Regions from separate parts of the Homo sapiens genome. Here regions 1, 3 and 4 are each linked to region 2. Evidence: fine-mapped expression QTL. A gene starts in region 2. Each other region holds a variant in brackets. All regions are shown on one strand. Distances are from middle to middle.

Region 1 (2,682 bases), 65 kb before region 2:
AGTCCCCTGCCCCCACTACGATGGTGGGGGCTCTGGGCAGGGCAGAGGCCCCTCAGTACACCATCCATCCACTCACCCCCATCTCAGGATAACGGAAATGATTTTGGCATAGAGAAAGAGGAGGGCTTGGGACTGTTATCAGCTCCCTACTCTTTTAGAGGGAACTCTGCTCAACTCTTCCTAGACTGTCTTCTGAATACAGGTAAACTGAGGCAGTGGAAGGGAAACCGCACTGGCCTTGGCCTGTCTTGGGACCTGAACTTGGCCTGCTGTTCACCCTGCCACCTCCAAAGTTTGGGTGAGGGGCAGGGGTCTCCAATTCTTCTGGACCTTCTTCCAGAATGAGCCCCAGTAGATGAGGGAGTGCCGGCCCCCACAAACTCTCCCTGTGAACACCATCTGCAGGATGGGATGCCTTTGAAGAGTCAGCACGGGCAGCCCCAGCCCCTTCCAATCAGAGCTGGGCTGTATCAAACCAGAGCATGGTGGAGGCAACGGCGTGTGAATTCTGAGGCTAGGGATAAAAATAACACGTTGGCTTTTACCCTGGGCCCTTGAATCTCTTGCTCTGGGGGGAAGCCGAGCGCCATATTGTGAAGACACTCAAGCAGCCCTGTGGGTTGGCCCACCTGGGGAAGGACTGAGGCCTCCTGCCTACAGCCAGGCCTCACTTAGAAGTGCATCCTCCAATCCTTAGCTAAGATTTCAGACAACAGCAACCTCATGAATGACCCTGAGCCAGAACTGCTCAAACTGTTCCTGACACCTTTGCCCCCCTCCAGAGTAGTTCTGACAAGTGGGGTGAGGCCGTCCTACCAGAGACGCCCCACCCTCTCCCCTGGAGCCAGGGTCTGCATTCGAGTCCTGCCCTCACTCACCTAATCATTTCTGCACTCAAGGCCTGACAACAAGACTGCTACTGAGAACTCAAAATACTCCAAGAGCCAGTCCCATATCTCAGGTGTGGGCTCTGCACACGTGCACGCACACACTCTAATGCATAGGAACACATCCACGCTCACAGGTACATGCACAAACGTGTGCATAAACACACCTAGGCCTGCACCCCCACTCCTAGCACACAGGCCACCCTGCACTTCCAATTTCCATAGCTCCTCTTCCCTTATAGTGACAGCCACAAGCTCTCTCGGCCACCAGGCTGTCCCTGGATGCCATGGCTCAGGCCTCAGGCTCCTGCCTCTGCTCCAGGCTGCTCCTGGCTGGCTTCCTTCCCTGGGGCCTCTTTCGTTATTTTCTTGTAGAGGCAGGGTCTTGCTATGTTGACCAGGTTGGTCTTGCTATCTTGGCCTCAAGCTATCCTCCCACCTTGGTCTCCCAAAGTGCTGGGATGACAGGCCTAAGCCACCGAGCCCGGCCTCCTTTGAATGGGCCCCCACCAGGCCTAACCCCCTCCCTCAGCATGGTACCCAAAGCCAATGTCTTTTCTCTGTTGGAGAAGCCCCCCGGCCTCACTCAGGCTCTGCCTATTACACTAACCAATGTCTCCAATGCTCCAGGCCCTGCTCGGAGCGGACTAGAAGGTTGGGGGTGCTTCTTCCCATCCCCATGCAAAGCGCTTCACTCAGGAAGTGGCGTCAAAAATCCCATTGGCC[A/G]GGCGGGGTATCTCATGCCTGTAATCCCAGCACTTTGGGAGGCCAAGGTGGGCGGATCACCTGAGGTCAGGAGTTCAAGAACAGCCTGGCCAACATAGTGAAACCCTGTCTCTACTAAAAATACAAAAATTAGCCGAGCGTGGTGGTGGGTGCCTGTAATCCCAGCTACTTGGGAGGCTGAGGCAGGAGAATCACTTGAACCTGGGAAGCAGAGGTTGCAGCGAACCGAGATCGCACCACTGCACTCCAGCCTGTCTCAAAAAAAAAAAAAAAAAAAGATCCCCCCATTGCAGGGCTGAGGTGCTCTTGCCCTAAAGCCCCCTCTCTTAGCTGGGGCTGGGAAAAGCCCTGGTTGTCACCACATCCAGATCTCTAGGCTCAGAAAGGGGCCCAGGGTGGCCTTAGGACTCCCCAGGGTATCCCTGGAAAATGTGGCCAGGAGGAGGGGGCCAGTGGGAGGTGGCCTGTGTTCACCTTTGAAGATCACCAAATAGTGCCCTGGGCTTTAACAGGGGCCTGGCCCTTCCTGTCTTCCCAGTCTTCTCTCCTGACCTCCAGGGCATCCTCTGTCACCTCAGAGGGGCAAGCCCCTCCAGACCAAGCCTCCTCCTGCTGAACAAATGTCACCCTGGCTACGCTGCTGCTTCCGGAGGCCACACTGGAAGCCTCTGATCCCCCAGCTCCTTCCTTTCCCACCAGCAGCCTGGTGCCTGGAGGTGAGAGGAGGTGAGAATGCCAGTGGTTTGGAGTGAGGCTTTGGGTCCCCGCCTCTGAATCTTGGGGAGGGGAAGCTACCAGGGTCAGGCCTGCAAGCCTCTCCAGCTCAGATGCATGCCTCGGGCTGAGGACAGTGGTGTGGGCAGTGCCCCTTGAAGGAGGGCGGTCCTGGAGATGCCCATGGAGGAAGGAGGTGCAGAGTCAGCAATGCCCAGATCTTTGCTGGGTTAGGACGACGGGCTGAGGGAGGAAGGGGTGTCTTGGGAACCAGGGGAGCCCCACGACGAGGCAGAACTTATCAGTGGCAGGGAGGGGTGGTCACTGCTCTGTTCCTCCCCATCCTTCAGCTCCC
Region 2 (2,682 bases):
TTACCTTCCAAGGCCTTCAACTATTTTTCCCCCTGCAGCATCCAAGCCCAGCCTCAAGGCAGATGCATAAACATGCCTGCTCCTCCCCTTCTACGGTTGGGCAAAACACCCCCCCACCCCCTTTCCAGGACCCCAAGGAGAAAGAATCACGTCCTCTGCAGCCCCTCCCTGGCCCTCGCCCACCCCCCGTTTCCCCCCCGCAATTCCAGGCCGTCCGCAGCAAGCCTCGTAGGCACCTTGAGATAAACACCCACTAATGATTTTATGATTTTCTGCTCTGGGTAACCGCGCTCAGCGGAATCCCTCCCCCCGCCGTGGCGACGGGGCCGGCCCAACCGAGGGATGGGGGGATGGGGGCGTTTGTTTTTTCCACGGCCTCGTCCCCACACCTGTTTTTCATTCATTCATTCGTTCGTTCCTTCATCCATTCACGGATCCGTCACTGCAGCCGCCCCAGCCCCCCGGATTTCGGGGAGGGGGCTGCGATGGGGGAGGGGGTGGGAGATGGGGGGGACGACAGAGGTGGGGGGTGGCGCACCGGGGGGTGGAAGGTTGCGAGGGGTCCGGGAGCCAGGACCCTGCGGCTCCGGCTTTGTCAGACGCGAGCGAAGCGGCGGCGGGGGCGGGGCGGGGGCGCTCCCGGGGCCCGAAGTTGTTTTCCGAGGCGCGGCGGCGAGGACAGCGGCCCGGGGTGCGCCCCCTTTGTCTGTCCCCGGCCGGCGCCGCGTCCCCGCGCGCTTACCTGGTCTTGGAGGACAGGAAGGCAAGTTTGATCAGGCCGTAGGTGAACAGCGGGATACTCTCCTTGGCGACGCTGGCAACTTGCAGCCGGTGCTCCAGGATGTGGAGTTCCATCGTCCGCCCGCGCCCCGTCCGCGGCGGCTCATCCGCGGGGGGACGAGCCGCGGCCCCCGCCCCCTCCGCGCCCTGCCGGCACCGACAGCCGGCCCGGAGACCCGGGAGCTCGGCGCCGGGCGCGGGGGGCGGCGGCGGCCGGGCCGGGCCGGACAAAAGGGAGGAGGCCCGCCAAGTTGCAAGGGGGAGCCGCGGGGCGAGGGAGGCAGCGCCGGCGGAGCAGCAGCCGAGGGGCCGAGCGGCGGAGCAGCGGCGCGCGGCGCCCGGCGCGGGGAGCAGCTGGTGTTCGCTGTAACAAACAACTTGCCACTCAAACGCCGGTCCCCGCTGCGCATGCGCGGCCCGCGCGCGGCCTGCCGGGACTTGTAGTCCGCCTGGGGGGGGGCTCCCCCGGTGCTGTTGCTGCTGTTGCTGCCGCGGGGGCTGGGCGGCCGGAGCTACCGGCAGCCCGGTGCACGGGAAATGCAGGAGCGCGGGCACCCTCAGGACTAAGGGGAAGGCCGAGGGGAGGCACGGGGCGGGTGGAGCCAGCCTGAGCCTAGGCGCGCCCTCTGGCACCCAGTCAGGCTCGGTACTAGGTGCTTGGAGTGTAAAGCGAGCAAACCAGACGACTCCGGTGCTGGAGAAGGCCCGAGTCTGGGAGCGCCAAGATGTAGGGCAATCGGTCATGAGAGTGCAGAGAAGCCAAACCGAAAAGCTTGCTGGGGACCCGGAGGGAGGGGATTGACAGGTCAAAGGGGGTGACCCGGGGGAGGGGACACTCAGGCTGGGTTTTGAAGGATGAATGGGAGTTCGTAGCAAGAGAGTGAGGGCGCGCGGATGGAGGACAGAGGCCTTCCAGGCTGCAGGAACAGCGTGTCCTAGGGCACAGAAGCGTGAAAGCCCCCACGGTGCTGTGTTTGGCTTTGTTGCAGCGGAAAATGTGAGGGAGGAGAGAAAAGAGATAAGGCAGGCATAGTCACCAGGAGTCAGGTCGGGAGGGTCATGTGTGCAGAGCTAATGAGGTGGCCATTTATCCCACTGGAGAGGGGGTGATGGGGACTGCGAAGGGTGAATTCGGGGAAAATGTAAAGTGCGTCTGAGGCACTTCCAACCCCAGGGCCCACGCGCCGGGACCACAGAGGTTCCTCCTTCATGGCTGTCTGGTTTTGAAATGTTCTGGGTTAAAGTGATTGGTGCTTCCACCTTTGGCAGAGTAATCTGGGGACGCGATGGGTGAGATCTATCTGCCAGGGCAGGCTGAGAACTCTCTTTCAGGGGAAAATTGCAGTTGTGCTCCCTCACCTTCCCTCAGCCCTCCTCTGTTAGGTAGGAACATACTAGGTTTTGTCATTTCCACAAAAGGGTGAAAAGCCTGTAATCTGTGGTAGATAGATCTTAGAGCATGCATATCCCCCTCCCACTTTATTTTCTTTTACTCTTTTTCTTTTATTTATTTATTTTTTAGAGACAGGGTCTTGCTCTGTTGGCCAGGATGGAGTGCAGGGGCGCAATCATAGCTCACTACAGCCTCGAACTCCTGGGCTTAAAAGATCCTCCCACCCCAGCTTCCCCAGCAGTTGGGACTACAGTTATGCCTGGCTAATTTTTTTTTTTTTTTAACTTTCTTTTTTCCCCCCCGAGATGGAGTCTTGCTCTGTCGCCCAGGCTAGAGTGCCATGGCGCGATCTTGGCTTACTGCAACCTCCTCCCCCTTGGTTCAGCGATTCTCGTGCCTTGGCCTCCCAGCTAGCTGGGATTACAGGTGCTGGCCACCACGGCTGGCTAATATTTGTATTTTTCGCAATGTTGCCTAGGCTGGTCTTGAACTCCTGACCTCAGGTGATC
Region 3 (2,682 bases), 590 kb before region 2:
TCTGGGTGTGCGTGCTGGTGAATGGCCAGGGAATCGGTGATGTTCTGAGCTAGTTCTTTCTGCACTTAGAACTTGATTCTAGAAAGAGATTGTTAAAATTGGAAAATCTGGCCGGGTGCAGTGATTTATGCGTGTAATCCCAGCACTTTGGGAGGCCGAGTCAGGAGGATCACTTGAGGCTAGACGGGATGGCTCACGCCTGTAATCCCAGCACTTTGGGAGGCTGAGGTGGGCAGATCACTTGAGGTCAAGAGCTAGAGACCAGCCTGGCCAACAGGGTGAAACCCTGTCTCTACTAAAAATACAAAAATCAACCCAGCATAGTGGTGCATGCCTATAATCCCAGGTACTGGGAGGTGGAGTCAAGAGAATTGCTTGAACCCAGGAGGTGGAGGTTGCAGTGCACCGAGATCATGCCATTGCACTCCAGCCTGGGCATAAGAGTGAGATCTATCTCGAAAAAAAAAAGGATCACTTGATCCCAGAAGTTTGAGACAGGCCTAGGCAACAAAATGAGACCCTGTCTCTTTAAAAATTAAAAAAAAAAAAATTTAAAAAGGAAAAACCTCCTGAAGGACTTTCCAGCTATATTTAATTCACTGGCTGTTAGCTGAGAATCTACTATGTTGTCATCATTACACTAGGCAATATCAAAGAAGTATAGGCAGCTCCCCTGTCTCTGAGGATTTTTATCTAGGTGGGCAGGTAATACCCAAAATGGAAATAACACTGTGTTCATTCATTTACTAAAGATGTAGTGCCGAGCATGGTGGCTCACACCTGTAATCCCTGCACTTTGGGAGGCCGAGGCAGGAGGATCACTTGAGGCCAGGAGTTCAATATCAGCCTAGGCAACATAGTGAGACCCTGTCTCTACAAAATAAAATTTTTTTTTTAATTAGACAGGTGTGATGTCACGCACCTGTAGTCCCAGCTACTCGGGAGGCTGAGGCAGGAGGATCGCTTGAGCCCAGGATTTGGAGGCCACAGTGAGCTATGATTGTGCCACTGCACTCCAGCCTAGGCAACAGAGTGAGACCCTGCCTCTGCTATAAATAAATATGTCCTGTATACCAGAAATTGGGTTAAGTATATATAGGGACAGAGAAGACATGGACTCTATGGAAAAGAAAAATAAGAAAACCATTTCTATGCAGTACAGTTTTTTTTCATTTTTTCCCCAGTGTTATGAATTGGAATATATTGGTTAAGATACAAGGATAGGGCCAGGCACGGTGGCTCACGCCTGTAATCCCAACATTTTGGGAGGCCGAGGCAGGTGGATCACCTGAGGTCAGGAGTTCTAGACCAGCCTGGCCAACATGGCAAAACCCCATCTCTACTAAAAGTACAAAAAATTAGCCAGGCGTGATGGTAGGCGCCTGTAATCCCAGCTACTTAGGAGGCTGAGGCAGGAGAATCACTTGAACCTGGGAGGCTGAGGTTGCAGTGAGCTAAGATCGTGCCTTTGCACTCCAACCTGGGCAACAGGAGCGAAACTCCACTCAAAAAATAAATAAAAAATAAAAGCCATGAGGATAGACTGTCTAATTGGAGTTCCAGAAGAAGATAATAAAAAGACCACATCCAGCCAAGGTGGGTGGATCA[A/G]TTGAGGCCAGGAATTTGAGACCAGCCTGGGCAACTTAGTGGCGCCCTGTCTCTACAACAAATTTAAAAATTGGCCGGGTGTGATGGTGAGCACTTTTGGTCCCAGCTACTCAGGAGGCTGAGGCAGGAGGATCACCTAAGCCTGGGAGCTCAAGACTGCAGTGAACCGTGTACTCTGCAGTGAATTGCAGAGTGTACTCTGCAGAGTGGTTCACCTGCAGTGAACCACTGTACTCCAGCCTGGGTGAGAGAGTAAGACCCTGTCTCTAAAAAGAAAAAATAAAAAGATCAGGGCCAGGTGTGGTGGCTCACGCCTGTAATCCCAGCACTTTGGGAGGCTGAGGTGGGTGGATCACTTGAGGCCAGGAGTTTGAGACCAGCCTGGCCAATATAGTGAAACTCCATCTCTATTAAAAATACAAAATTAGCCAGTTGTGGTGGCTAATTTTGTAATCCCAGCACATACCTGTAATCCCAGCTACTTGAGAGGCTGAGGCAGGATAATCCTTTGAGCCTGGGAGGCGGAGGCTGCAGTGAGCCGAGATTGCACCACTGCACTCCAGCCTGGGCGACAGAGTGAGACACTGCCTCAAAAAAAAAAAAAAAAAAAAAAAAAATTATCATCTACATCTTTGCCTCCCTAAATAATAGAGTTAGTTTCACATGATATAGACTACAGGTAAATGGAGTCCTACTGTATATATTCTTCTACAACTGGCTTTTTCACTCCACATTCTGTGAGATTAATCCAAGAAGATAAATTCATTTTCACTGCTCTCTCATTATCTATTGTGTGAATATCGCTTAATTCATCCGTCTGTTCTCTTGGTGATGGACACTTGGGTTATTTCCAGTTTGGGTTGTTATTAATTTGCCCCTATGATCATATATGCACACATGTCAGTTTCTCTAGAGTATATACATAGAATCAGAATTACTAGGTATTAGGATGAATCTCACACATAGAATGTTGAGTGAAAAATCAAGTCATGGAAAAATATATACAGTAGGATTCCTTTTATATAAAGACTCAAACATTCAAACTTAATAGGGATGCATCTATGTGGAATTAAA
Region 4 (2,682 bases), 280 kb after region 2:
AGCGTACACTTTCATTATTTCTGAAAATTCATAGTATTTCTTCATAATCTCACTTTTCCTTTAATTCCCCAGCGAAAGAAAACAGAGATGTGTTCTCATTTTACAAATGCAGTGATTTGTCAAGGTCATATTGCCACTATCACAGTCAGAACATGAAACTAGGGCAATTTTCTGCCTACTGCTGTTACCACTTTTTCTCATCTTTAATCGCCATAAATCTGCCATCAAGTCATCATGAGGCCGGAGAATAGGGTCTGGAGGCAGGGAACCTAAGGCCAATTCATGCTGACTTCCTAGAACTAAATCAAAAGGAAAACCCCAACTTTTCACACCTAAGTAACAAAAGGATGGGAGGCTACTCAGTTTGCAAACCACCACCCCCACTTTTTCTGTGTCCCAGATGGAAAATTCAAAGTATCTCTGATTGGTTGCTTTCTGCAACCAATCAGACGTTTGCACAGGAGTGTAACATTGTAACTTCACTTCAGCCTCTGATTGGTTGCTTCCTGCAACGAATCCCAGACTGACTGCGACCAAGTCTTTTTTCCTTTCCTTTTTCTTTAGTGCAGTGGCACGATCTCGGCTCACTGCAAGCTCCGCCTCCCGGGTTCACGCCATTCTCCCACCTCAGCCTCCAGAGTAGCTGGGACTACAGGCGCCCGCCACCACGCGCAGCTAATTTTTGTGTTTTTTAGTAGAGACGGGTTTTCACCATGTTAGCCAGGATGGTATCGATCTCCTGACCTCATGATCCGCCCGCCTCGGCCGGATTACCGGCGTGAGCCATCGCCCCCGGACTTTTTTTTTTCTTTTTTTAAGACGGAGTCTAGCTCTATCGCCGAGGCTGGAGTGCAGTGGCACGTTCTGGGTTCCCTGCAACCTCGGCCTTCCGGGTTCAAACGATTCTCCTGCTTCAGCCTCGCGAGTACCTGGGACTACAGGTGCCCGCCACCACGCCCAACTAATTTTTGTATTTTTAGTAGAGATGGAGTTTCGCCATGTTGGCCAGGCTGGTCTGGAACTTCTGACTTCAGGTTATCCACCTACCTTGGCCTCCCACCACGCCCGGCCTTTTGTTTTTGTTTTGAGACAGGGTCTTGCTTTGTTGCCCAGGCTGAAGTGCAATGGCGCTATCTCAGCTCACTGCAACCTCTGCCTCCCGGGTTCAA[G/C]CGATTCTCCTGCCTCAGCCTCCCGAGTAGCTGAGATTACAGGTAACTGCCACCACACCTGGCTAATTTTTTGTATTTTTAGTAGAGAGGGGGTTTCACCATATTGGTCAGGCTGGTCTGGAACTCGTGACCTCAAGTAATCCACCCATCTTGGCCTCCCAAAGTACTGGGATTACTGGAGCCCGGCAGGGCAAGTCGTCATTTGCATACAAGTGTAACTTTGTAACTTCACTTTAGTCTCTGATTGGTTGCTTTCCACAGATGCTTGCATAGGGTGTAACCTTTGTAACTTCAAGTCAGCCTCTAATTGGTTGCTTTTCACAACCAATCAGACTGCTTGCAGGCCACTACTGTATTTACAAAGGATGTACACCAGGTAACCAATGGGAAACCTCTAGAAAATTAAACCCCAGAAAGTTAAACCCCAGAAAGTAGTTAAACCCCAGAAAATTCTGTAAAGGGGCTCTTCAGCCCCCAGGCTCGGCCCGCCCCCTCTTTGTGGACTGTACCTTCCACTTTCAATAAATCTCGGCTTTTGGTGCTTCTTCCATTGGACACCCTCCACTGGTAACAATCACACTCAATGTGTGTAAGAAATGGGGGACAGACGCTACAGCAACAGCCCACGGGGCGCCCCTGGTGATGAAGGTCCTATGTCTTTATCAGAACTTTCAGGGCAGGCAGCGAGCCCTGCAGGATGGAAAGCACCCCAAGGGCGACCCACGGGCCTTCTCTGTGCTTCCTGCTCTCTGGAAATGGGTGCATCCGGGTCACACCGGAAGTTCGCTGTTCTTTGCCCATCCCAAGAGTTTCCTTCCTGGGACAGTCCTTAGTTGAAACTATTCGTGGAGGCTTCCCTGCACCCTTCACTTGGGGACGGCTCTCTTTTCTCCTCTTCCCAGAAAGAAACTGCCATCAGGAGGTGGCATTAATTAAACAATGAACACCAGAGGAGGCATCGGGCCAGGCAGGTGACGCCAGCTTAGGAAGCATCTGATGCACCGGTCCCCACAGGACCAAACGCCTAGAGAGCTGGTGTATGGGTTCAGCAGACAGCCATCTCGCTGCGTGCCCCTGGGGGCTGTACTCAGTTGCCTCGTCCATAAATGGAAATGCTCAATCCCTTTTATGAATACCCTCAACTTAAAATAAGAAGGGTTGGAAAAAGAAATGAACATTTATTGAATATATGTCATGCTTTATTGGCCATCTTGTATAATAAGCACAGCAACCCTGGGTGGGAGAGCAGGCAACATGGACTACACATGGACCCCAGGAAAAGCTCCTTGATGGAGGTGGTGCTCCAGAAGCCACCTGAGCCAGGCCCATGGAGTCTTTTCCTGGTTGACTTTACTTTCTGATGTCACCAGCAATGAACCACAAATCACAAGGATATGACCTCTCCTATCTGTCATGACACATCAAAACTCAGAGGTCTCCCAGTAAAAGAGGCCGTGGAAGAAAAAAAAAATTAAACCAGGTAAAATGAGGACATTTTGCTCTGTGCTCATAA

Evidence for each region.
Region 1: its variant is fine-mapped to the expression of CASTOR2 in lung (TOPMed, PIP above 0.99). The same link has a PIP of 0.9 or more in caudate, cerebellar hemisphere, cerebellum, esophagus mucosa, esophagus muscle and fibroblasts.
Region 3: its variant is fine-mapped to the expression of CASTOR2 in whole blood (INTERVAL, PIP above 0.99).
Region 4: its variant is fine-mapped to the expression of CASTOR2 in whole blood (INTERVAL, PIP 0.96).

What each region holds. Positions count from the first base shown.
Region 1 is chr7:75,028,571-75,031,252 of GRCh38, reverse strand. It overlaps CASTOR2 (cytosolic arginine sensor for mTORC1 subunit 2), which reads right to left. Exons shown (of 9, transcript NM_001145064.3): 9 at 1-2,682. It also overlaps a transcript of RCC1L not described here. Among named protein-coding and RNA genes, the nearest start is that of RCC1L, 44 kb to the left of the region's middle. The variant A/G (reference allele first, on the strand shown) is at 1,614.
Region 2 is chr7:74,963,159-74,965,840 of GRCh38, reverse strand. It overlaps CASTOR2 (cytosolic arginine sensor for mTORC1 subunit 2), which reads right to left and starts at 1,136. Exons shown (of 9, transcript NM_001145064.3): 1 at 743-1,136. The coding sequence starts at 855. RefSeq lists a silencer at 1,289-1,398.
Region 3 is chr7:75,550,733-75,553,414 of GRCh38, reverse strand. All of the region lies in intron 22 of HIP1 (huntingtin interacting protein 1), which reads left to right. Among named protein-coding and RNA genes, the nearest start is that of SPDYE5, 60 kb to the right of the region's middle. The variant A/G (reference allele first, on the strand shown) is at 1,609.
Region 4 is chr7:74,683,901-74,686,582 of GRCh38, reverse strand. The region is part of intron 1 of GTF2I (general transcription factor IIi); the gene reads right to left. Among named protein-coding and RNA genes, the nearest start is that of GTF2I, 28 kb to the right of the region's middle. The variant G/C (reference allele first, on the strand shown) is at 1,170.